Homo sapiens: one gene and its partners. The protein of the gene in region 1 interacts with the protein of each later gene in a pairwise test. Each region holds a gene or a part of one and is shown in the gene's direction. Other genes may lie near its edges. The genes, in order: GTF2F2, ZMYND19 and URI1.

Region 1 (8,499 bases):
CCCAAGTAGCTGGGACTACAGGTGCCTGACACCATGCCTGGCCAATCTTTTGTATTTTTTTTAGTAGAGAAGGGATTTCGCCATGTTGGCCAGGCTGGTCTCGAGCTCCTGACCTCAGGTGATCCACCTGCCTCGGCCTCCCAAAGTGCTGGGATTACAGGCATGAGCCACCGCGCCCGGCCTAATACAGTTTAGAAGCATGTCTTTAAACAAAGTTAAAAGGTTTAGCCTAAAGAAAGTAAATTTTGTTTACCTGAAATATTCAAGCATGTGAAGCATTTGTCAGTGCTGGATAGAGGAGATGTTACTAAAGTGAGATAATTTACCAGCACACAAATATTAACGCAATAATTGCTTTTTCAAGGTTTGGATTAAGCAGTAAAGTAGGGCTGGGGGAAGGTGGAGTAGGGTTTGCACCTTGACCATTTCATCACCCATCTGTGTGCTGCTTAGAGTTTTTACAGGGAGGAATGGAGACCCTGAGTGGAAGATAGGAGGCGGGATCTAGTGGGGAAGAGGAAGTGAAACCAGGAGAAAAGAAGAAAAATGCAGAAATGGTCTGTGTTTCAGAGAAGTTTCCTAGCATCGCCTTTCCTCTAAATGAGGGAAAATGTCTGTTGCATTTTCTGTATTAGGCCATTCTTGCATTGCTCTAACAAAATACCTGAGACTGGGTAATTTATAAAGAAGAGATTTAATTGGCTCATGGTTCTGCAGGCTGTACGGGAAGTATGATGCTGGCATCTGCTCAGCTTCTGGGTAGGCCACAGGAAACTCACAGTCATGGTGGAAGCATGTCACATGGCAAAAGCAGGAGTGAGAGAGTGAGGCAGGACATGCTACACACTTTTAAACGACTAGATGGCAAGAGAACTCACTCACTATCTCGAGGATAGTACCCAGAGGGATGGTGCTAATTCATGAGAGTTCCGTCCCCATGATCCAATCACCTCTCCCCAGGCCTCACCTCCAACACTGGGGATTACATTTCAATATGATATTTTCATGAGGACACACATCCAAACTATATCACGTTTGATCACAGTTTCTTCCTAATGTGTAGTTTATATTTTAACAGAAGAATGTTTTGCCTTGAAGTCACTAACATCTTCATCAGTAAGTTTTCATTCTGTTGATATCTCTTAAAGGAGTTGCAGTCATTCACACAAAAATCATGTAAAGATGAAATGATACTTTGAAATTATCACAGAATCGATAATGCCCTTCTTGTGGTTGGATCACTTTATAAAAAGCATATAGTGCATTTTCCTTTGTCAGCTGCATTAATCAGTGCCATCATCAGTGTAAGTTTGCATATTGAATATTCAGTCTCACCATTTTGGGAAGATTTTGTGACTGGAAGACTAACAGGGTCATATTGTTAACTTACTTAAAGCATTAGTAGTTGGTGATCATCTCCCTGTCAAAGGTGTATGTTTTTAATGAACATCTACAAATTTAGATATAATTGATTTATTATTATGCTTATCACTGAAATGCATGATAAGATGAAATGCAGATTAAGTCCTCCATTTGTTTGACAGAGCAGGAGAAGAAAAGATGATATGAGAAATGGTAGGGGGTGGAGGGACGGAAGGAAGGAGCAAAAGACTAAAATAATAGGCTACTGTGCCTTATGACTATAGGTTTGTCTCAGTCTTGGGGGCCAATTAGGATGTTGATCCATGGACTTCTGGCTTTTTGCCCACCGCAGTTTTAACTTGACCCACAAATGCAAACAAACATCCTAATCACTTGACCTCTTTGATCAAGTATGTGCCTTGCCATTTCCTTCCAAGAAAGCTGTGATGTTCTATCCCTTATTTCTCTGCATTCAGACTTGCCGTAAATTCTCTCCCACACATCCTTTTGATGAAGAATTGCTGGACCTGAGCCAGTTTATTCAGATCTTGTGCTGCAGCTTGGCACATAGTCTGTAATAAGACATATCCCCAATCCTATGTGACATAAAAGTGATCTACTCAGTTCTAGAATCCTCTGTTTCAAATACAGGTGGTTAGACAAAAGATTTAATTGGAAAGTCACTCAGTGTTTAAGTAAGAGGAGGAGAACTCCTTTCTCTAGATCTCTACACAGAATTGCTGTTCAAATCGAATGATCAAATATCTATCCTCAAAGAACCTAACATCTCTATGCGGGCTGTGTTAGGTGCCCCCTTCTCAGTGGTCTCATAATACCCTGTACACATGCCTCTGTTATATTTTCTGATTACCTGCCAATTTGCCTTTTTCTTTTTCTTTTTTTTTTTTTTTTTTTTTTTTTGAGGTGGAATCTTGCTCTGTTGCCCATGCTGGAGTACAGTGGTGCGATCTCAGCTCACTACAACCTCCACCTCCTGGGTTTAAGTGATTATCCTGCCTCAGCCTCCTGAATAGCTGGGACTACAGGGGCCTGCCACCACGCCCAGCTAATTTTTGTAATTTTGGTAGAGACGAGGTTTCTCCATGTTGGCCGGCTGGTCTTGAATTCCTGACCTCAGGTGATCCACCCGCCTCAGCCTCCCAAAGTGCTGGGATTACAGGCGTGAGCCATCACACCCGGCGTAATATGCCTTTTTCTTTGCCCCCATCCTCTGCACTAATCTTAAACTGTGAACTCTGAGAGGAAGACTGAGTGTCTACCATTCCACCTGGCACATTGTAGGTGCTGGAATAAATGTTTGAGTGAATATATGAATGTTAAAAAGAGAAATAAGATTACCAAGTAATTTTCAATCCTGGTAGAACCTTTAAAACCTCTTCTTCAGTTGGCTCTGTCACCAACAATATTTTAGCACTAAAATGCAGATTTTAGTAATAAGTGACATTCAAATTCACGTAGTACAGTTTAGTCAGTAAACTTTGTTTCTCAAACTAGATCACTGCTTGAGTTCTAAAACTGAACTAGAATTTGAATGGTCTATTTTTATGGACCTTCTTAGTGATATCCCCACCACCACCCAGCAGTCCTCTTAGCTGCCTTGTTAGTCTTAAGCACGCCTTATTCACTTTGCATAAGTACACTGAGTCTCTGTGATGTGCACGCAGGCACTATAACAGGAGCATGTGGCCGGGCGCGGTGGCTCATGCCTGTAATCCTAGCGCTTTGGGAGGCCGAGGCGGGTGGATCACGAGGTCAGCAGTTCAAGACCAGCCTGGCCAACATGGAGAAACTCCGTCTCTCCTAAAAATACAAAATTAGCCAGGCGTGGTGTCACATGCCTGTAATCCCAGCTACTCGGGAGGCTGAGGCAGGCGAATCACTTGAACCCAGTAGGCAAAAGTTGCAGTGAGCCAAGATCATGCCATTGCACTCCAGCCTGGGCAACGAGAGTGAAACTCTGTTCCCACCGTCCCCCCGCCCCCCCCAAAAAAGGAGCATGTGATTTAAGAGGAGAGCAAGGCATATAAATAAAGGATTATAATATAATAAGAGCTACCATCGAAGGTTGTGCGGTGTGAAATGTAAATCTAAGGTAAGGCTGTTAGAGAAAGTTTCTCTGAGAAAGTAACATTTGAGCCTAGTCTTAAAGAATGAGGGGTCCAGATTTGAGGAAAGGAGATAAACGTTACAAGGAAGGGAAACAACATATGGGAAAAACCCAGAAGCACGCAGATGCAGAAATGGGAAGCATGCGTGAGGGGGAGTGTTGGAAGATGAGGCTAAAGGGAGAAGGCAGACCTGAGTGGATGCCTACAAAGGCGTTTGGAATTTAATGTGTAGCCCAAACGGGGAAGTCATTAGAATATTTTAGACAGAGGAAGGACATGTGCTCTTTCTGTTCTCTGTCCATGTCTTCCCTTTAGAGATTTTCCCTTCAGAGACCTTGTTTTTCCCTATCGTCACTACTACTTTCTCTGCTAATGTTTTATACCTACTTCCCTGCCAAGCTAATTTATTTGATTAGAGTAAAATGGTCTTAGGTTGCAGTTTAGAACATCCTAAAAATCAGGAAGTTTGTGTCCCCTACCCCCTGATCACAGTACATTGTGACCCTGATTGCATTTTGTTGCTTGAGAAATTGACTGACTATGGTCATCTCATTCCATTCTTATTGTTACAAGGAAAAAAGAATGACACCTTCGTTTATAAAAAGAATTCCATATGTTCTACTAGATTGCCAAAATGAGGGTGGACATGAAAACAACTGAATTTGTACACTTCAGACTTTATTAATATTTTTTGTTTAACCCTTTTTAGGATTTTCATTTTCTGGGCCTAGATTATAAATGGGCACACTAGACTTGAAGTCAGGAGAGCTTCTTTTCTATGGAGCTACTAAAATGCTCCTGGCAATTGTTCTTTTCATTTTTGACCCATTGCAGTGCATCCACAATTGTATGGTTGTTTGTGCAACATCGTCTTAGCCAGTCTCATAATAAACCATTCTTTGGAATTTTACAAAGATGTCATTCTTGGCACCTAAACAGAGAATCATTTGTGCCTAACCAATCATTTTCCATTTATGAATCCTGTTCAATTAGAAAGTAGTTTATGAACAGTGTCCTGTTTTTTAAATGTAATTTGAAATAGCAGGTGGCAGACTTGCATTTTATATTACCTAGATATCTCAAGCCTTTATGCTTACTCATTCACACGGGTCTGCTAGTGAAGCCAACTGTATAAGGTGTGGGAGGTAGGCAAGCCTCGGGGGAACCCAGGGCTCATTTGGTTCATTGCTGCCATCTGCTGGGGCTTGGCTGCTGGCATGGGAAGGCTGCCCACGAGAGAGCTGAGCCATCCTGAAGGAACCTCTGTATACTTCCAGTACTAATCAGCTATTATGTTTCTAGGTGACAACCTACCCCTAACTAAAAGGACTTTATGAACTCTAGAGCATTATATCAGTCAGTGTAAAGTGGCATTAGATTATGTTGGTAACACGTACTCTACAGCAAACATGAGGCTCAGAGAACGAAGCAACACACTAAGGACTCAAAGATCCTAGAGTATCAGAACTGGAAGAACCTTAAGCCAGATGTGGTGGAACTTTAGTATATAGTTACATGAGTCGCCTAGGCACTTGTTAAAATGCAGATTCCTGGGCCTAGCCCAAGAGACTTTGATTCAGTAGGCCCAAGCTGTGTCTCATTTAACAAGCTCCCCACAGGGTTCTGATGCAGGTGGTCTAGCACCATGCTAGAGAAAAGCACTACCTTAAATATACAGACAAGAGCTTCTCAGCCATTTTTCTTATTAATGCCTCACTTCAATCAATAAGAAAAATTACATCTTCCATCAATGGGATGAGTCATCATCATACCGTAACTAGTTCTTTGAAGCACACGCACACAAATTATTGTTGGATTGCTTTGTTCTGCAACAACAACAAAAGAGTCGCTTTTAAATAATTATCTTGGCTGGGTGCAGTGGCTCAGGCCTGTAATCCCAGCACTTTGGGAGGCCGAAGTGGGTGGATCACCTGAGGACAGGAGTTCGAGACCAGCCTGGCCAACATGGTGAAACCCCATCTCTACTAAAAATACAAAAAATTTAGCTGGGCGTGGTGGCATGCGCCTGTAATCCCAGCTACTTGGGAGGAGGCAGGAGAATCGCTTGAACCTGGGAGGCGGAGGTTGCAGAGAGCCGAGATCATGCCACTGCACTCCAGCTTGGGCAACAAGAGCAAAACTCCATCTCAAAATAATAATGATAATAATAATTAATATTATTATCTTTCCTTTCTTCTCCAAGAAGGAAATTCTGTAATTTATATTGGTCAGCTTATTGTGGAATGCTTTTTGGCCTTCAGCATTGGCAAGCAAAGGTCTAGTTTCATATTACACTTAACATAGCCATCATTTCCATGACCATAGTAATCATTTAGTAAATGTTTATTGAATTTTTAGGGACCTAAAACACCATAATATGACTCTTTTCTTTGGAGAAGCCAAACACAAGGCTGCATCCCTGATAGTTTTAGGGGATGTCTTCTTATCACTTTATTTATTTATTTGTTTTTTGAGACAGAGTTTCACTGTTGTTGCCCAGGCTAGAGTGCAATGGCACAGTCTCAGCTCACTGCAACCTCTGCCTCCTGGGTTCAAGTGATTCTCCTGCCTCAGTCTCTCTAGTAGCTGGGATTACAGGTTCCCACCACCATGCCTGGCTAATTTTTGTATTTTTAGTAGAGACGGGGTTTCACCATGTTGGCCAGGCTGGTCTCGAACTCCTGACCTTAGGTGATCTGCCCACTTCAGCCTCCCAAAGTGTTGGGATTACAGGCGTGAGCCACCAAGCCCGGCCTTATTATCACTTCTTACTCCCTTATCTGTGTTGGCAAGCTTGGCTAAAGTACAAATAGTAGTAAATACAAATAACAACTCTCCTTCTCACATAGGAAAAAATAAGTGGGTGGCCTAAAAACAAATTTGAGAACTCACCTTAGAACTGAGAATTCTGAATACCTGTCATATGCCTGCTTGATAGAATATTCTCAAAAATGTTGCTCATTTTTTTTATATGCTACTGCTCCTGAAACTACTGGTTTCAATCTGTGAACTGAGTCCCATGAGGCCACTGAACTCAAGGGCAGATTACCCTTGGTGTACCGTGTCACACTGAGTGAGGACCAGTAATTTTTTCGTGTATTTCATGTAGTGTTTTTTGTGTTTTTTTTGTTTGTTTGTTTTAGCTTTTAAGTTGTTGGCATTCAGGACTTTCAACTCCTTTAATGCACATGATCATATATTTAGTGCAGTTACCATGTCGCACATGTAGAATCAAAAGGCAGTTTATTGAACCTCCTTATAGAGAAATCTTGCTGAGCTTTTAGGATCATAATTTTTATGGCTTGCATATGTGCTTTGGCATATCATCTTATTTTAAGTTTTGTCCCCTGCATTTATAATCTCATTTGTTAGGGGTTTTGTTTTTGTTTTAGGTGTACCTGAAGGAAATCTTAAAAGAAATTGGTGTTCAGAATGTAAAAGGGATCCACAAAAACACATGGGAGCTGAAGCCAGAGTACAGACACTATCAAGGAGAAGAAAAGAGTGACTAAGAAGACTCCTAGCCAGCATGCTAGTGAAACGACTAGCAGCGATGCTATGCAAAAGGCGCTGATACTGGAAGGCTTGAACACCGTATGTTAATAGGGGTTAAGTGACAGTACTTTGATTTCTCTCGGTAAATTTTTTAAACCTGTAATTCTTGTAAAGTTTCTTAACTGTTTTTTTGAGGAGAAAGAACAGATTTATTTATAGACTTAACTTGTATTAAACCAGATTATTCACAGTAGGAATAGGGGTTGGAGGATTAAGAGGGTTTTTCTTAAATATTAGCTTTTAATGTGTACAATTAGGAAATTTTTTTAAGTGAGGACTCTCTACCCTTGCCGTATCTAAGGAGCTGAGGTAATACAGATCCAAGGAGAATTGTATAGCAAGAAAAAAACAGTCAACTACAGAAACTCTTAAAAGGAATAAAAACCCAAAGTTCCTTATTTTGAAATTGTCAAAGAACAAAGCGGTGTTTTTCTTTTAAACAGGTGATCACGTTTCGTGTTCATACTCAACGTTAATAAAAGGAGAGAGTTTGTAGTGAAATGGCAGTGTTCATCATTGGCTTATTTTACCGTAGTGATGCTGAGATGAGAAATGTGCAGGATCATGGTCAGTTGATGTTTCTTTTATTTGCTTTTAAGATAATTAGAAATTAAATATCTTTCCAAAATTTGAAGATATGTCTCCCCCAGTCAGATTATAAGCTTCTCAAAACTGGCTTGCCCCCAGAATTTTACTGCTTACCCAGCAGACATGTATTGACCATCACATGGCAAATGATATCAGCAAATCAAAAGATGGGCGTAGGGGTCCAGCCGAGACAGAAAACGTTAGTTTCAATTCCTGGGGCATTAAAATGTTGCTTTTCTCTTTCTCTTTAATTAATTTTTAAATGAAAACAATACATGTATATGTTAGTTTTTTCTAGCACAACACAATATTATATATTAAGCGATCCAAAATCATACTGTCAAGACCATCAAACAAAACAAAGAAGCTTAAGTGAACTAAGCACAGGGAAAAGTTGTTTTTTCACTCGTTCATTTTGTCATCTGCTTCTAGATGCTGCAATCAAGAAGTAGCAAATGCCCAAGTTGCCATAGTGTTTGCAGGAAAAAAAGAGAAAAAATAATAAAAATAAGGAAGGAGCAATGCCAAAAATTGAAGAAAATATTATATAATTAAAGCAAGAAGATATCTATCCATTGAGAAAAACAATTTTTATATTATTTGCTTTTAGCAGCAAAGCATTAGAATTCTGAGATTGTTATAGCACTAAGAAGATTTTTATTCTGTGTACACACTGAAAAATAAAATTCTGAGTAAAGAAAGTGTTCCCATTCCCCACTCCACCTCAGATTTTCTTATGTACAGGCACCAAATGTGGTATGCCCATCACCTTCTAGTTCCTGATGACTGGAAGCTCTGTGTCAGGAAGCCCGTGGATAATGGTCTGATAAATCTATATAGAACTGAGGATTCTGGATACCTGCCA
Region 2 (7,431 bases), on another chromosome or scaffold:
GCCACTGTTGGGGTTAGCCCTGCGAGGATGAAGCCTGATACCAGCTCCTCTGGCGCAGACTAAAGTGGGCAGCTGGCTTTTAACCTGTCTGCCTGTGTTTTGTCGTAGACTGCACCACCCCAAACGGTGGAATGAGGCCCCCATGTGCTGAGCTGTCTTGGTCTGAAGAGGCCTGTAGTTACTTTCCACTTCACAGGAAAATGCAACAGGCTCCTGCCTGTTCTGGTTATAAGGTTACTGCACCTCACGCAGATCCCAAATGTAATGATTTGAAACATGTGGTTAACTTCCAGACCAAATACACGCTGATCGATGAGCAGGACATCCCGCTGGTGGAGAGCTACTCCTTTGAGGTAAGTAAGGATGGCTGTTCCCTCCCCTGATGCTCGTGGTCAGTGCCCAGGAGGGTCACGAGGAACGAGCTCTCTCCCCTGTGCTGCAAGAGCAGGCGGCCCCACAAGTGGACAACTGGTGCTGGCCTGTGAGCCCTGAGCCGTCAGCCCCACTTCGAGCCGTGGCCCTGCAGAACCTGGCTGTTGCTGCCACTGGAGCCCACTGTGGCCCACATGGCCTGGCGACAGTGGTCTTCCTCACTTTCACCCCAGCTGCCAGCTCCTCTTGAAAGCAAATGGAATGTTCTCATGTTTGTGATTGTGTCACGTGGACCATGTCTGTTAGCTCGAAGACCCTGCTCTTTAGAGCTAGCCACCTCTGCTGGGCCTGCCTTAGCAGTCCCTCCTGGCTGCCCAGCTGCCTCCCGTTCTCTGCTCTCATGGGGTCTTCCTGCCTCTTCCCAGCTTCCATTCCTGCCGCTGAGCTTGGCCTCCCTCACCATCCTTTATCTCTGTGCCCCACACATTCACAGTAGTGACCTCTCCAGGGGGTTCTCTATCTCACTGCACCGTGGGCTTTTTTTAAGGGTAGGAAAATGTATTTGTCTATGTCCCATTGTATTTTGCAGAGTTGTTTGTGAGTGTTTCTTGCTCGAATAGACAGAGTGGTGGTGGGCCACGCTGGCCCCTGGGAGCCATGTGCCTGTGGGAAGCTCTGCACTCCCCAGGGTCTCAGGGACAGGGCTGGCATTTGTCCCTCTGGCTTGCTTGTTTCACTTGGTTTTTCTAAGAGGGAATTGAAGTGTTGCTGAGAATTGGAGGTTTTTTAACAGCTCTTTCCCTTGTTCCTTCTCAGGCCCGAATGGAAGTGGATGCAGATGGAAATGGTGCTAAGATATTTGCCTATGCCTTTGACAAGAACCGAGGAAGGGGCTCTGGGAGACTCCTTCATGAGCTGCTGTGGTGGGTGTTTCCAAGCTGTCTCTGCCCCCCGCCACTGGGCTCCTGGGTGAGCTCCGATGGCACAGGGCGCCTGGAGCCCCCTGCCCCGCTGAAGCCCTGCCTTGCCTTCCCTGAATCTCGCAGTTATTTTTGTGTCCTTCACCACTAACCCAAAGGAACGAATGATTTGTATGTTGCACTTCAAACACCAAGTGGACTTTCTGCTGGGAGCTTGCCCAGGACCGGCAGCCTCTGGAGGGACGGTGGTTGCTCCCCTTGCTGGGTTTTGCCGAGCCCCCCCGGTGTGCATGGTAGGGACCACTCAGATGGGGAGCTGTCTCGAGGCCATCTGCTTAGGTGGTTTTGCGTTCCAGCTTTGGCTGTCTGTGCTCTGAAGTCCAGGGGCCGGGTCCTCCCTGTGTCCCTGTCCTGTTTGGGCCACAGATCAGGTGCTTGGGTTTCTCTCAGCAGCTTCCGCCTGAGGTACCCTCATCCAAAGGACCAGGGGCCCGATCAGATCACATGGCTGACATTTCTTCCTGGAAGGACTTTGGTACCTGACCAGAAATGTCTGTGAGGGTGGGAGGCAGCGATGCAGGGTTAGATGCAGGGTTTGCTGTCTGTTTCTAGGGAGCGGCACCGGGGGGGCGTGGCCCCGGGCTTCCAGGTGGTGCACCTCAACGCTGTGACCGTGGACAATCGCCTGGACAACCTGCAACTGGTGCCGTGGGGCTGGCGGCCCAAGGCTGAAGAGACCTCCAGCAAGCAGAGGTGGGTCTTCTCAGGGCCTGGCGATGCCAGCAGAGGCGCCTTTTGAGGAGGGCCACCGCCAAAGCTCTTGTTTCCAAGAGGGTCTCCTGTTCCTCCTCTGAGCCCTGATGCTTCTGTGTATTTTGGGAATTTCATTGTTTTTCCCCAAAGCGTGGAATCCTCCTTTTCTTCATGGGAGCGGGAAGGATCTTGATGGTGTGTGTTTTTGCATTGCTCCTCTTATAATTGGCTCTGGGAACCTCCCTTTAGCTGGCATGACAGTGGGGAGAAGGGCTGCCTGCTCCAGGGCAGGGCCAGCGTCGGGACTCGGTGTGAGCAGGGCTTCTGCCCCACACCCCTGGGAGGCATCAGCCTTCTCTCCTCACCTCAGGATTCCTTCCTTCTCTGCTCACCTCAGGATTCCTTCCTTCTCTCACCTCAGGATTCCTTCCTTCTCTCACCTCAGGATTCCTTCCTTCTCTCACCTCGGGATTCCTTCCTTCTCTCACCTCGGGATTCCTTCCTTCTCTCCTCACCTCGGGATTCCTTCCTTCTCTGCTCACGTCAGGATTCCTTCCTTCTCTCCTCACCTCAGGATTCCTTCCTTCTCTGCTCACCTCAGGATTCCTTCCTTCTCTGCTCACCTCAGGATTCCTTCCTTCTCTGCTCACCTCAGGATTCCTTCCTTCTCTGCTCACCTCAGGATTCCTTCCTTCTCTCCTCACCTCAGGATTCTTTTCTGTGCACACAGATGGGTCTTTTTGTTGTGTTCTTTTGCTAAACAGTTTTCCTTAAGCAAAGGTTTAAAGCGGAGAATGGTTCAGGGCTCAGCCCTCGGCCCCCGACCTGCCTGTGATCCTGAAAGCAGTGCTTTGCATGGGCTTCCCACCTGGGAGGGCGGTTCCTGCTGGCCCTAGAACCAGCCAGTCTGTGAACTTCATGGAGCCCTTGGGAAGAGCCAAGGGACCAGCAGGATAGGGGTTGGGAGCCCAGTTGAGCCAGGGAGTCCCCAGCCACACACGCTTCACTGACATGTTCCCCTGGCGCCCTGGGGCTTTTGGGCACGTCCTCAAGCCTCTGGGCAGCCTTTCCTGGTGCAGGCAGTGCGAACTGCCCTAGCAGATGGTTGTCAGCAACGCTGGTAAGGTTTAGTGTTTCGGGCTTGGTGATGGTTGGTGGCTGTGGGTAGAATCTTTGCAGTTGTCACCTCAGAGTCATGCCAGAGCCCTGGGCAGCCGAGGTGGAAACAGTGGGAGCACCTGACACACTGGTTGGTGATGTGGGGACAGTCCCCAGGCCTCCAAAATGCCACTCCCAAACTGCTGTTCCTGCCACCCTGGAGGGAGTCCTACAAATCCCCCCCCATCCCTTCCTCACTGGGCCTCTCAGGACGAAGGCAGAGCCTGAAGTGTCTTTCGTTCTTGTTGGGCTGGTGTTTTTTTTTCCCTGCTCTGTTTATTTCATTAAATTAATTAATTTTACGGATGGGTCTCACTATGTTGCCCAGGCTGTTCTTGAACTCCTGGCTTCAGGGAATCCTCTTGCCTCAGCATTTTTTTTTTTTTTTTTTTTTGAGACGGAGTCTGGCTCTGTTGCCTAGGCTGGAGTAGCGCGACCTTGGCTCGCTGTAGCTTCTGCCTGCCCAGTTCAAGCAATTCTGCCCCAGTCTTCCTAGTAGCTGGGGTTACAGGTGCCCACCACCACGCCTGGCTAATTTTTGTATTTTTAGTAGAGGTGGGATTTTGCCATGTTGGCCAGGCTGGTCTTGAACTCCTGACCTCAGGTGATCCGCCTGCCTCAGCCTCCCAAAGTGCTGGGATTACAGGCGTGAGCCACCACGCCTGGCCCCGCTTCAGCCTCTTGAGTAGCTGGGATTACGGGTGTGCACCACCACGCCCGGTCCTTGCTCTAATATTAGAGTTTTGACCTTCCTCATACTGCTTGTGAGTGAAGCCAGGCCTCTTACGATTGTTGAATGGGGTTTTTATTCTTTCGGGGATTATGTTAGTTGGAACTTTGGGTTGCAAGAAACAGAAACAAAGGTCAATTTGGCTGAAACAAAAATAGGGTACATTTTGGTATCCTGACTGAAATGTGGAGAGCCAGGGATGCTGCTGCCTCCAGCTCTGCGCCCCCACTCCCGGCTCCTCTCTGGGAGGCGGCATGGGCACTACCTAGCACTTGCGGACTGAAGCAGGCACCCTGTTCTAGTGGTGTCTGGGGAAGCCCTGGGATGAACTGTAGTTAGCTTGCTTAGAATCACTTTTCTACATGAAAAGGGAAGGGGAAGGGGAAGGCGTGCTTGGCAGGCAGAGCAGCATCTGTAGCATCTCCTCCTGCGTTGTCCCACATTGATACATGCTCAGTGTTGATGCTGGGATGGGCCCTTCCCAACTCCGCAAGTTCGCCCGCTGCTCACCACTCCACCTGGCAATGCCTTCTGTCCCTGCCATGGTGCGGGTCATTTCAGCCGGTTCTCAACAAGACTCAGGGTCCGGCCAGCCTGTGACTGAATGTTACCTTGAATCCTCTCAGCACCCTTTATAATCAGGAGAGGAGATAACTGCCGTTAAGAACAGCCGTTTGGAAAGGGGGTGTTGGGCTGATGCTCCTGGTCAGCCCATTCTCTGTGGGCACGGCAGGATGCCCATTCTCTGAGGGCACAGCAGGACGAGTTGCGCTGGGGCTGCTGCCTTACACAACCCCCTGCTACAGGAGGTGGGCCTGGGGTGGCTCAGGACTGATCAGGCTCAGCCATCTTTGGTTTGCCAACATGGGGTTTTAGAACCCAGCAGGTGTTGGGCCTCTTGTGCTGGGTCAGCACCCCAGGCCCCGAGCAGAAGTCAGAGCTGGCCAGTGTGGGCCTGACATCCTGTCTGGCTGGGTGCTGTGTGTCCGTCTGGATCCTGGTCTGTGGCCTCCTGTGATCCAGCTCTTTGTGGTGGGGTCACCCTGTCTTTGTTGACTGGCTGGGTGCTGTGCGTCCGTCTGGATCCCAGTCTGTGGCCTCCCTGTGGTCCGGCTCTTTGTGGTGGGGTCACCCTGTCTTTGTCAGGCCTGGGCTATTGCTTTGCTTTCCTGGCACTGTGTCAGCTCAGCCCCCACAAAAGGGGCCTCTTGGCAAAGGGGTGTTTTCCTGTTCTGTCTTCAGAAGCCAGCAGTGTCTGAAACTTGCCTCTGTCTGGTGGGACCTCACCAACATCTTCCCATGTCCTGATCCTTCCCCGTTTTAACCAAGTCTCCTCAGGGTCTGGCTTCGGAGAACGGGGTTGGTGGGGTGGTTTATGCAGCTTCTTTACTCCGTGATGCAGCAGGGCTGGGGCTGCCCACGCTTGCCTCTGAGCAGCCAGTGCACATGCCTTTGAGGCTCCGTTCTTGGTAGAACTCTCCCGTTGTAGGCATCTGGCCTACTCAAGCAGGAGGAGTTTTTAGACGGACGTAGGGCAGCTCCCGGTATGGAAGGGGAAGTGGACCGACGGGGCAGTAATGGGCACCTCTGCAGGTCAAGGGCAAGGAGAGGGGCCGCCTCGCTTTGCACAGGGGCCTGACCTGGGCCCTGTCTCCTGCCTACTGTGTGCCTGTCAGTCCCAGGTGCTGGGGAGAGGGTGATAGATGAGGCCATGCTTACGGGTTAGTGGGAAGATGAGACACAATATTTACTGTCAGGTGGTGAAAAGCACATGCAGCAGGGATGGGCCAAAGGAGACTCAAACTCGGGCTGGGTGTCCTGGGCAGGATGGCACTCTATGGAGTCATTGCATCGTCTGCTGTGTGCTGGCCCCGTTTGGCCAGAGTGCACTCAAGTGTCTGCTTCTTTCTTTAAGGGAGCAAAGCTTGTATTGGCTTGCAATTCAGCAGCTGCCTACAGACCCTATAGAAGAACAGTTTCCTGTCCTAAATGTGACCCGGTATTATAATGCCAACGGGGATGTAGTGGAAGAGGAGGAGAACTCTTGCACCTACTATGAGTGCCACTACCCTCCCTGCACAGTGATTGAGAAGCAGGTGGGTGTGCTGCAGTGCGGTCGCGTCCCTGGCACCTCTACCCTGTAGCCCAGCCTTGGTTTGGGATCTTGCCCTCCACCGCGGGGTCCCATTCCCCAGAGACCGCTTAGCACCTCTTGGGCTTTTCCACCAGAGTGGTCTCCCTTTGCCCTTGTGCTGGCCTGACCAGGGCCCAGGCCCTCCAGCCTTGGTACGTGGTGTTTTGCTGGGTCCGTCAGATTGTCCGTAAGACGCAGCCTTTGCCCCACACTGCGTCCCAGGCATGATGGTGAAGCCACAGGTGTTCTGTATTTCAGCTCCGGGAGTTCAACATCTGTGGGCGCTGCCAGGTGGCCCGGTACTGCGGCTCCCAGTGCCAGCAGAAGGACTGGCCTGCCCACAAGAAGCACTGTCGGGAGAGGAAGCGTCCCTTCCAGCATGAGCTTGAGCCAGAGCGATGACGGGCAGGGGAGCCACACATACTCACAGCCCCCGGGCTCTACCCTGGGCACAGCAGAGACAGACTGGTGGTTGAACCTGGAGGTGCCAAAAAAGCCAGCTGCGGGCCCAGGACAGCTGCCGTGAGACTCCCGATGTCACAGGCAGTCTGTGTGGTTACAGCGCCCCTCAGTGTTCATCTCCAGCAGAGACAACGGAGGAGGCTCCCACCAGGACGGTTCTCATTATTTATATGTTAATATGTTTGTAAACTCATGTACAGTTTTTTTTGGGGGGGAGGCAATGGGAAGGGTAGAAATTACAAATAGAATCATTTGCTGTAATCCTTAAATGGCAAACGGTCAGGCCACGTGACTAAAAACTGTCCTGTTGTCGAAGCTTCTCCCCTGGGCCGCCGGGAGCCCCGTGGAGCGCGGCCTGCACGGGAGTTGTGTCCACAAAGGCAAAGTAAAGGGGTGGAATCATCTGGCCTCTCGGACATTCTCTGCTCCGCCTCCCTCTTGTGCTGCTTAGGGTGAGGTCATTTTGAGTGGAGCCGAGTCCTTGTGGGTGAGGCAGGAGGACCCTTGTTCCTGGTGGGCCCTTCTGAGGAGCGGGTGAGCTCAGACCTTCCTGAGTCCAGCAGGGAGTATGAGTGAGACTCTGTCCTTGTCTTGCGGCAGGAGTGGTGGGGTTGCTAAGTCAGCTGCCCGCTGTTTTATGGGGAGTAGGATGCTCTCGCCCCTGACATTGGTTAGTTCTTGCCTGATTTATGCATGAAGTGGCTGGGAGCTCAGCAGTGAGCTTCTGCCCAGAAGAATCCACAGGGCATGTTCAGCAGGCCTGCTGCAGATGGTGGAGGGGGCTGGCCAGCCAGGGTGAGGTGAGGGTCTCACTTCTCCGTCCGTCTGCAGGGCTGTGGTTTCCAGGATAGCCCTCCCTCTCCTTGGGGAGCCCCAGGTGTCTGGGGCTGGTCAGCATCTTG
Region 3 (8,499 bases), on another chromosome or scaffold:
TTATTCCCCATGATCTGGAATACAACAGTGGTACACCTTGAAGCCGTGCTATGGATCCTTTAAAATTTGTTTGCTAGTGCTTAGTAGGCCTTTTTTGAGTGGAGGCTTAAGTCCTCCAGCCGTGGGAAATTTATATTAGTAATTTGAAAATTTCCTTTTCTTGTTGCCTATTTGTTTGTCCTTGTTGTAATTTTTGAAGTGATTTCTTCTGCATACTCTTTTAAATCATGTATTGACTTTAAAATTTTCCTGTACATAGTTTCATTTCTGGAAGCACTTTTTTTTTGTTCTTTGGCTGTTTCTTTGTTACAGCATCCTGTTCTTGTTTCATGGATGGAGGGTCTTTTTTTAAGGAGTATTTGTTTTTTCTTTTAAAGTTTTCATCTTTAAACATTTCCTCCATGTTTCTTTTTTCTTCTCCCTCTTTTCTCTCTTGCTCTCTTTTTTTGGTCTCTAGCATTAATGTTCAAGAATTTCTTCAAATGTCTGGTGATCCTTGGCTAACCATTTATACTTGCGTTGAGTACTGTCAGGAAGCTCTGTGTGCATAGGCAAGGTTTGTTGACTGATAGGTATTTTTTGTAGGGATTTAAGGTAGCAAGCTGATTTATTTATTTTTTTTAAATTGAGCAATCTTTAAGTATCAGCAGATTCTACAAAAGAGTCTTCTGATCTTCTTCATCTAGTGTTCTGAGAACCAGGCTGGGCGTTTCAAGGTTCAGTATGTTCACTTGGAATTAATCCTCCTGGTTTCACTAAGACATTTTCTATTCTCTTTCCACTTCCCTATTCCCTACCATCTCTACAAACCACTCTAAGCTGTGAATCTTTTGTTTAAGCAAGAAAGGAGAAACCTTTCTTGTGAGATTAGGGTTTGGGGACCTGTTCTTTTCAAACTTTTATCTAGATCTTTGGTTAAAGTTCACTCTTCTTTTGGAAATACTCTCAAGTGAATTGCCTTTTCCAGGTCCGATATCCCAGATCGACTTGTAGTAGCTTTTCCCAGCCACAGTTAGGTTCCATTTTTTTCTGTTGTGCAAAGTCCATTATCAGTTGTGCAGTTTCCAAAATTTGGTTGACATTTCTTGTCTATTTTCTCTTCAAATGTATTTGTCTTTATGGGTTTATGCCTTTAAAAATTTCTTAGTTGTTACTTTACCTAAGGTATAGGGGAAAGGCAAATACTAAGTACATGTATTCAATGTGCTATTTTAAAGCAGAAGTCCAAACCTTTGTACTGGTTTAAGAAGGAGTACATCCTGTCCAGAGGTTTGTGAGTATTTCCACCAGGGGGCACGTCCTGTTGAAGCTGTCGAAAGAATATTTAAAAATTCCAGCACACAAAAGAAACGAGGTTGAGAATAGAGTGGTCACAAAGGATTCAGTAGAGAATTGCATATTTACAGGCTTCATACTATTCAGTACATATGAATATATGGCTAAGTAAAAAAGACTCCTTTCACGAATGATGTTCATAACTTTTATTAGTGTTTTGCAAATAATTTTTATTACATCTGCATTTCTGTTCCTTTCAAATATATACAATTCTACAAACTGTTAACTAAATGTTTCTAAATATTTGGTCTTACTTAGTGAGTAGGCATATCGTTTATCTTTAGGTGAAAATGACTGCTTAAGTTCTTATGAGGTTTTAAATTTTCTTTTTTGGTTTAAACATGTCTTTGGAATTTGCACTGTTAATTTGCTTTAAGTCTCCTTTTTCATAGCTAACTCAAAGGATTTCAGCCAGTTCTGGACAAAGATTCTGAATTAGTGAAGACTTTAAAATATTAGCTTATGCTTGCTGCACATTTAACCTGCAGCCTGGTTTTGTCAGCTAAATAAATAAAAACTATACCTCATTCTATACTTCTGAAATCCTAGAAAATTTAACTTCTGATTTTTAGTTAAAATAACCTGTGTTTGAAAACAATCTTCTGTCCTTCAAATTACTAATTTTTTTCTTCAATTTTAGTTTTTATTTTTTGGGGTGGGGGGAAGTATCTGTGGAGAACTGTCTTTTGTACATTTTCACAGCTATTTCTTTGATCCCATTGAATTTGTTTTCTTTTTTCTATAATAATTGGTAACTAAAATGTTTGAGATTAAAATGAATACAGATATTGTCTATATCACAAAGTATATTTCTTTTTCTCTCAGTAGTGTTATTTGCTATAATTTCAGTGTGGTTTGAAATTTTGCTTAATTAGATTTCAACTTAGCCATGTTTGGAGCGTTAAAATTGATTGAGTCTGTTTAAATGATCCATTTTTAGTGACATGTATATTTCACCTCTTAAAATAAATTTTTGGAGAATAGAGTACAAAAGCTTTAGTGAAAAATGTAATAGCATGGTTTCTAATGTTAAATCTCAGAGTTATAGAAAGAAATGGAATTAAATTCTCATTCTGCTTTTTTAACTGTTGTTCTTTTGAAACAACCTGTAGATACGAATTTAGACTTGTTATTTACTTTGTACAAAATCGAAATAGGTGCTTACCATTCTGCTGTATTTTATGTTATTGTGAGCACCAGGTTCGTTTGCCTTGCGGTTGCCCAGCTTTCTTTTGTCTTGTCTTAAATTTTCTGTATAGCTATCTAATTTTTTGTTGCTCTAGGACATAGGACTTATGATAATTTAATAGAGATATATATCTGCATATATAATGTGTATGTGACGGTGTTGGTGCTTATCAGTTTGTGGTATTTCTGAGATTCTGATATAAAGTATATGCTTTTGAGATCTGATTTCTTAACCTTGTGATAGTGGTTTATATTAATGTATGATTCAGAAAGCTTTCTTGAATTTAAAAATGGAACTGTGCAATCGTATTTCAGTTTTTCATAATTACCCTATTTCCAAAACACTTTGTTTCTTAAATGGAATATTCACACAACTTTTTCTTACATGCGTGAGTTATGATGAATTTTTTTTAAAGTCAACAATAGTTGATTGAAAGTAACTCCTATAACATCAGTGAACAATCAATTCTTTACACATTGACAACCCAAGGCTTTCACTGATACCTTTAGCTTAGTTGCACAGTATTTATATGTGGATAGACTTTTAAAAATGTACTTAGCTTACCTACCTGCCATTTTTAATATTTTCCAGTCTTCTTGAAAAAAGTTATTGATTTGACCTCCTACCTAAAATAATGTTCTTTAGATCTAAAGCTGGTTAGACACATTATCTGACTGAGTTTACTGAAGCAAAAACATTCCATAACCTTAACCTTTTCCCTGACCCCCTGCTTTTAACAACTGCCGACATAGTTTTATGCTGTTATGTGACCATGCTCGGATGAAATCTGTCAAACAGCTCCTTGAGTTATTAGGCTGTCTGAGTCTGACCTTTCTGCAATCAAAGATATATGACTTAAGGGCTCAGATTTGCCATGGCAACCGGTCCAATTTGCTGCCGTGAGAAAAGGTCTAATTGTTGCAGAAATTTAATGATCTAGAGCGACATCAGGGCTGTGAGATTTTATGAACTGTTTACACCGTAATTTTCATTTTGTTAATGCAGTCTTTTTTTTGTAACCCATTCATGGCTAGAGCATAAGTGATTGTGTTTTATTTAAAATAGCATTGCATAGCATGAGAGCCGTATCGGAGAACATGTGCCACTCTCGAGAAGCCCTTCATATGTGGTGATATTTCACTTTTAACTCCCTTCCTTATTTTCATTCTTTTAAAAGATATTTTAACTGCTTAGACCTTTGCCAGACCTGCATTCATCATTGGTAGAGAAAGAACTATGTACTTTTCTCCTCCATCCTCTTCTGATCTGCTTACTGATTGAGTGCCTGTTGTAAAACAGTAGGAAATCACAGAGCATCTGGGGGAGGAGGTATCATATCACTGTCTATTATTCTTTATCAGCGCTTGGCCATAAAAATTCTGTATTTGGAGAAAAGTAGGATATTGTTCAGCATATAATTATAGTTAGAAACCCCATGTATTTTTTAGATGGTGCCATTTACTGCTTAGCAGAGATTTCTACTCTGATTACAGAAACATGAATTACTTGTTGCATTTGTCCAGTATTGGGTAGAGAAATGTTTGTGTCTATTCTCAAATTAAAATTTTTCCTCAAATAGGTTAATAGAGGGTGGTATTTAGGAGATGTTGAAAGGCTGTGTGTTGTGTTGTTATGCAGTTTAACTTGGAAATGGTTGATTATATACCGTAAAAAATGTGTTGTATTTTCAGTCATCTAATTTAGGAATATTTTCTGTTCAGGAACAGAATAACTTGTCTTAATCTATGTTATCTATGCATTATCCAGCTGGACAAAAATTACCTGTGCAACAAAACTGTTATGAAATACTGCATTTTATGTGATGATCCAACTAGATATTTATCCTATAGAAACCTGGTAGCACCAGGCAGCATCTACAATCTAGTTCTGTACTCTGTAATAGAGAGAAAATATGTTAGACATTTTATTACGAACAAAGTAATGTGCTATATATATAGCACAAAAATACACAGTATAACTTATTAAAAGTCCATTTAAAAGGAAAATAGTGTAAGATTTTTGAAAAGCATTACTGTTAAATCATACTTGTAGTGTGATAGGACTACAGTTAAAATATTCCTACAGGTCGTATATATGCCATGCTTTACATAATGGTTGTGTTCATTGTTTCAGATGTAAGAAAAACAATAGATGACTTAAAAAAAGTGATGAAAAATTTTGAATCCAGAGTTGAATTCACAGAAGATTTGCAGAAAATGAGCGATGTGAGTATTTGTTTTTAGTCTTCTATATTTTTAGAAAATATTTTCAAAGAAATATGAAGCTATCTTACAGCCAAGGAACAAATTAATTGAAGTTTAAAATGCTTTCAGACATCTTAGGTTGAATAGTTGCTCTTTGGATAATTTTAGTATGCTGGAGATTTGTGTTGTTAATACGCTTTTTTTTTGTTTAAAAACCAGGCTGCAGGTGATATTGTTGACATACGAGAAGAAATTAAATGTGACTTCGAATTTAAAGGTAAGCAGTAAGATTGTTTTATGTGTAGCTGTTTAGATATTTTGATTTTTGTTGATTTTCAGTGGGCTTTCTGTGAGATATTTGGGATTTAGAATACACTTTTAAATTCATAGGATGCCAACATTTTTCTACTCATTGATTTTTTTTTATGTGAAACATTAATGGATAAATAACTTTTGGTTAAAAATGTGATTCCTGACTGGTCTGTTTTAGTGGTGGGATTACATGGCTTTTTTCTCCCAAAGTTCTCCAGTGCTCCAAACCTCTAAAACTCAGAAGATGTATATTCTAGACATGGATCTGCTCCTAATTTGTTCTCTGACCATGGTGAAGTCCTAAGATATCTTTTGCTAGTTTTTCTTCTTTTAAAACTGCAGCTTTGTAAGCTGTTTTTGGAAGAATGAATGAATGTGGGTGTATTTCAGCCATTCCTCTTATGGTGCCTGCAGTGGCTTTCCCTGCGCAGGTTGTTCCCATCTCCACCCAGTAGATTTCTTTTGCCAAGGCTGGCTTATGTGTTTGGGTTTACTTCTGTAAAGCCAATGGTTCCTTCGTCAGTTGTAAAGTGTTAACGGTAGTGAAATTGTAAAAAGTATTACAGATGGCTTATTATTTGCTACTGTAGAAGACTGTACAGTGTCTTAAACAAATGTACTGAGCATTCGTTTTGACTTTCAGCACTCATATTTTGGTGATGAACTCTTAAGATAACTTACTGGTTGAAAGAAGCCACATCACAAGTAACAGGAAGTGGCTTTAGAAGGTGAAATAAAGGATATGTATATTAAAGTTGAACAGAAAGACAAGATTTTTGTTTGTGGTGACCAGTGACAAATTATGAGCGCTACAGGTCTGAAATAAAAATTGTTAACTACTGTCTTATCAATAATAGTTACAGAGAATAAGGCTGTGAAACATAATTTGATATTTTCAGATGTATGCAACAATGCAGCAAATTTGAATATATGATGGACTCGAGGTCATCTGGTAGTGCCATATCTCATAACAGGACGCATCTTAGACTTCTTCCCATTACTTTCCCATTACTTTGCTTTAATAAAGCAAATAAAGCCTTAATTTGCTTTATTAAAAAATAATCTATTTTTTAAAATGAAAAGCAGATACCTCTGAGTTCAGATTTGACCCATCTTTTTTCCTCACATGAAGATTACAAATGAAGCAGTTTAAAAAGTAGAGATGTTCATATGTAAAATGATAATAGAACTTTACAGAGATGAGCCGCCGTTGTTTCCTTGTAGGGTACTCATTCCTTGGCAGTGCCCTGGAGTTTAAAGTATCCTGTCACAAGGCTTTTGCACGTTACTGTAGTAACTAGATTTCCTTGAGTAAGGATGGTAAATGGAAATTTATCATTTATGTGTTGCATTTCGCCTTATAACCAGGGTGCATTGTGGCCATTTCTTATGCATTTTTGAAGCTCTTCTCACAACCTTGAATGTGTATGCAGGTTCTCTGGGGCTCTTGTTGAAATACAGATTCTGATTCAGTGGGTCTAGGGTGTCCTTAGAGCTTACACTTCTGAAGTGTTCCCCAAGGACGCCAGTGCTGTTGATCCATGGACCACACTTTGAGTAGCAAGGCTGTAAGAGACATTCATCCTTGGAGTTCTGTTTGGCTTAAAAATTGTGACCCCTCTGTTTCAATATTTCCCTTGCCCCAAAAGAAAGTCTCATTAAGTCTGGGTTTGTGCCTTTTTTATGTTGGCTATTAACAGCCACGTCTTTTCCTTTTTCTAAATAGCAAAACACCGAATTGCTCATAAACCGCATTCCAAACCAAAAACTTCAGATATTTTTGAAGCAGATATTGCAAATGATGTGAAATCCAAGGATTTGCTAGCTGATAAAGAACTGTGGGCTCGACTTGAAGAACTAGAGAGACAGGAAGAATTGCTGGGTGAACTTGATAGGTACTTGATGACAAATTATCTTTCCAAGATAATTTGTTTCTATACACATTTCCTCATTAATCTTTTTCTTCATTAATAAAATAATATGTGTTCATTGAAGAAAATGCAGGGAAGCATAATATATTATCAATAATCCTTTCACCTCAAGATGAACATTAATTCTCTGGAATATTTTCTTATAGGATTGTGTGTTTGTGCATATTCCCATGCATGTACATGTACTTAAATACTTAAGATCAACATCTTCATTTTTTATTATGGCCTATTTTATATAATTAATTATACCAGATAGTTGACTTTTAATAATCATGGATTTAATATATATAATGTTAAATTTTAAATGAAGTATTTTTATGCCACACCCAGGATAGTGCTCTATCTTTGAATGTGTTGTGAAAAACAAAAATACACTTTGAATTTAAATTTGATACAGTAAAATGTTTATTCTTGCTTTCCTTTTATAAACTTTGGAGCAGGTAATTTGTAATCTGGTCAGATAGCTATATGTATGAGAAACTTTACGAAATTGCTGTTTGAAATACACATTAGCACACACTTAGAATTGTTAAAATGCTAAATGAAATCTGCTACTCGAGAAGTTCTATATTATTTTGCTTAAATGATGTACCATATGCAATAATTAGTTTCTGTGAAAAATAGGGCAGGAAGCATAAAAGTTTCTTTTTCCTAGTGTTTCACCTATAAATTCTTAGGTCTTTTTGATTAACTAATACTATTCATTTTTTAAAACCAGTTTTGGATCTTGTGATTTTTCTTGGTCATGATTCTCTTTCTATTTTTTGTATGATGTTATTTCAGTTCTGTTGCATTTTCAATTTTGTTATTTTTGTAAGGTCCTCACATCTTTTATAGAATCAAGTATGATAAATGTTCACTCATGCATATAGATATATTCGTGTGCATATGTATAAATCCTTTATTTTTAAAAATTACAATAATACATGCTCATTGTAAAATATTCTGAGTATAGGAGTAGAAAATAAGTGTGTATTATGTGGTTTCAATTTCTGGTCTTTAGAGATAAATGTTCTCTGAATTTCTTACAACTTTATTATTATTGATACTATATTTATATTGCATATGGCCAATATCTTTCTTGCAAAGATAAAAAAATTATCTTCTATATTCTACTTATGTCTGAATAACCTCAATATATAGAAGCAGCATAGGAACTGTTTTTTGTTAATTTATTTCAAAACATTTTTTTGTTTTTGAACTTAGAATTCTAGTTTTAAAAATACTTTATTCAAGATCTTAGTATTTACCCATGGAAACTAACTGGAAATTTAAATAATGTAAAATTCTAGTATGTTTGTTTGATCTTGTTAATTTTCTTCCTTGCTAGTAAGCCTGATACTGTGATTGCAAATGGAGAAGATACGACATCTTCTGAAGAGGAAAAGGAAGATCGTAACACAAATGTGAATGCGATGCATCAAGTAACAGACTCTCATACTCCTTGTCATAAGGATGTTGCAAGTTCAGAACCATTCAGTGGTCAAGTGAATAGTCAGTTGAACTGTTCAGTGAATGGTTCCAGTTC

What was found.
Region 2: the proteins of GTF2F2 (region 1) and ZMYND19 interact in binary tests that used the Homo sapiens proteins (3 or more experiments, as listed by UniProt).
Region 3: the proteins of GTF2F2 (region 1) and URI1 interact in binary tests that used the Homo sapiens proteins (3 or more experiments, as listed by UniProt).

The regions. Positions count from the first base shown.
Region 1 is NC_000013.11:45,276,559-45,285,057, forward strand, and holds the end of GTF2F2 (general transcription factor IIF subunit 2), read left to right. Parts: intron 1-6,883; coding exon 6,884-7,003; 3' UTR 7,004-8,335; downstream 8,336-8,499. UniProt on the Homo sapiens protein: TFIIF is a general transcription initiation factor that binds to RNA polymerase II and helps to recruit it to the initiation complex in collaboration with TFIIB.
Region 2 is NC_000009.12:137,581,581-137,589,011, reverse strand, and holds the end of ZMYND19 (zinc finger MYND domain-containing protein 19), read left to right. Parts: intron 1-293; coding exon 294-353; intron 354-1,188; coding exon 1,189-1,295; intron 1,296-1,904; coding exon 1,905-2,045; intron 2,046-5,848; coding exon 5,849-6,029; intron 6,030-6,325; coding exon 6,326-6,469; 3' UTR 6,470-6,931; downstream 6,932-7,431. UniProt on the Homo sapiens protein: May be involved as a regulatory molecule in GPR24/MCH-R1 signaling.
Region 3 is NC_000019.10:30,000,704-30,009,202, forward strand, and holds part of URI1 (unconventional prefoldin RPB5 interactor 1), read left to right. Parts: intron 1-4,657; coding exon 4,658-4,749; intron 4,750-4,947; coding exon 4,948-5,005; intron 5,006-6,766; coding exon 6,767-6,935; intron 6,936-8,301; coding exon 8,302-8,499. UniProt on the Homo sapiens protein: Involved in gene transcription regulation. Acts as a transcriptional repressor in concert with the corepressor UXT to regulate androgen receptor (AR) transcription.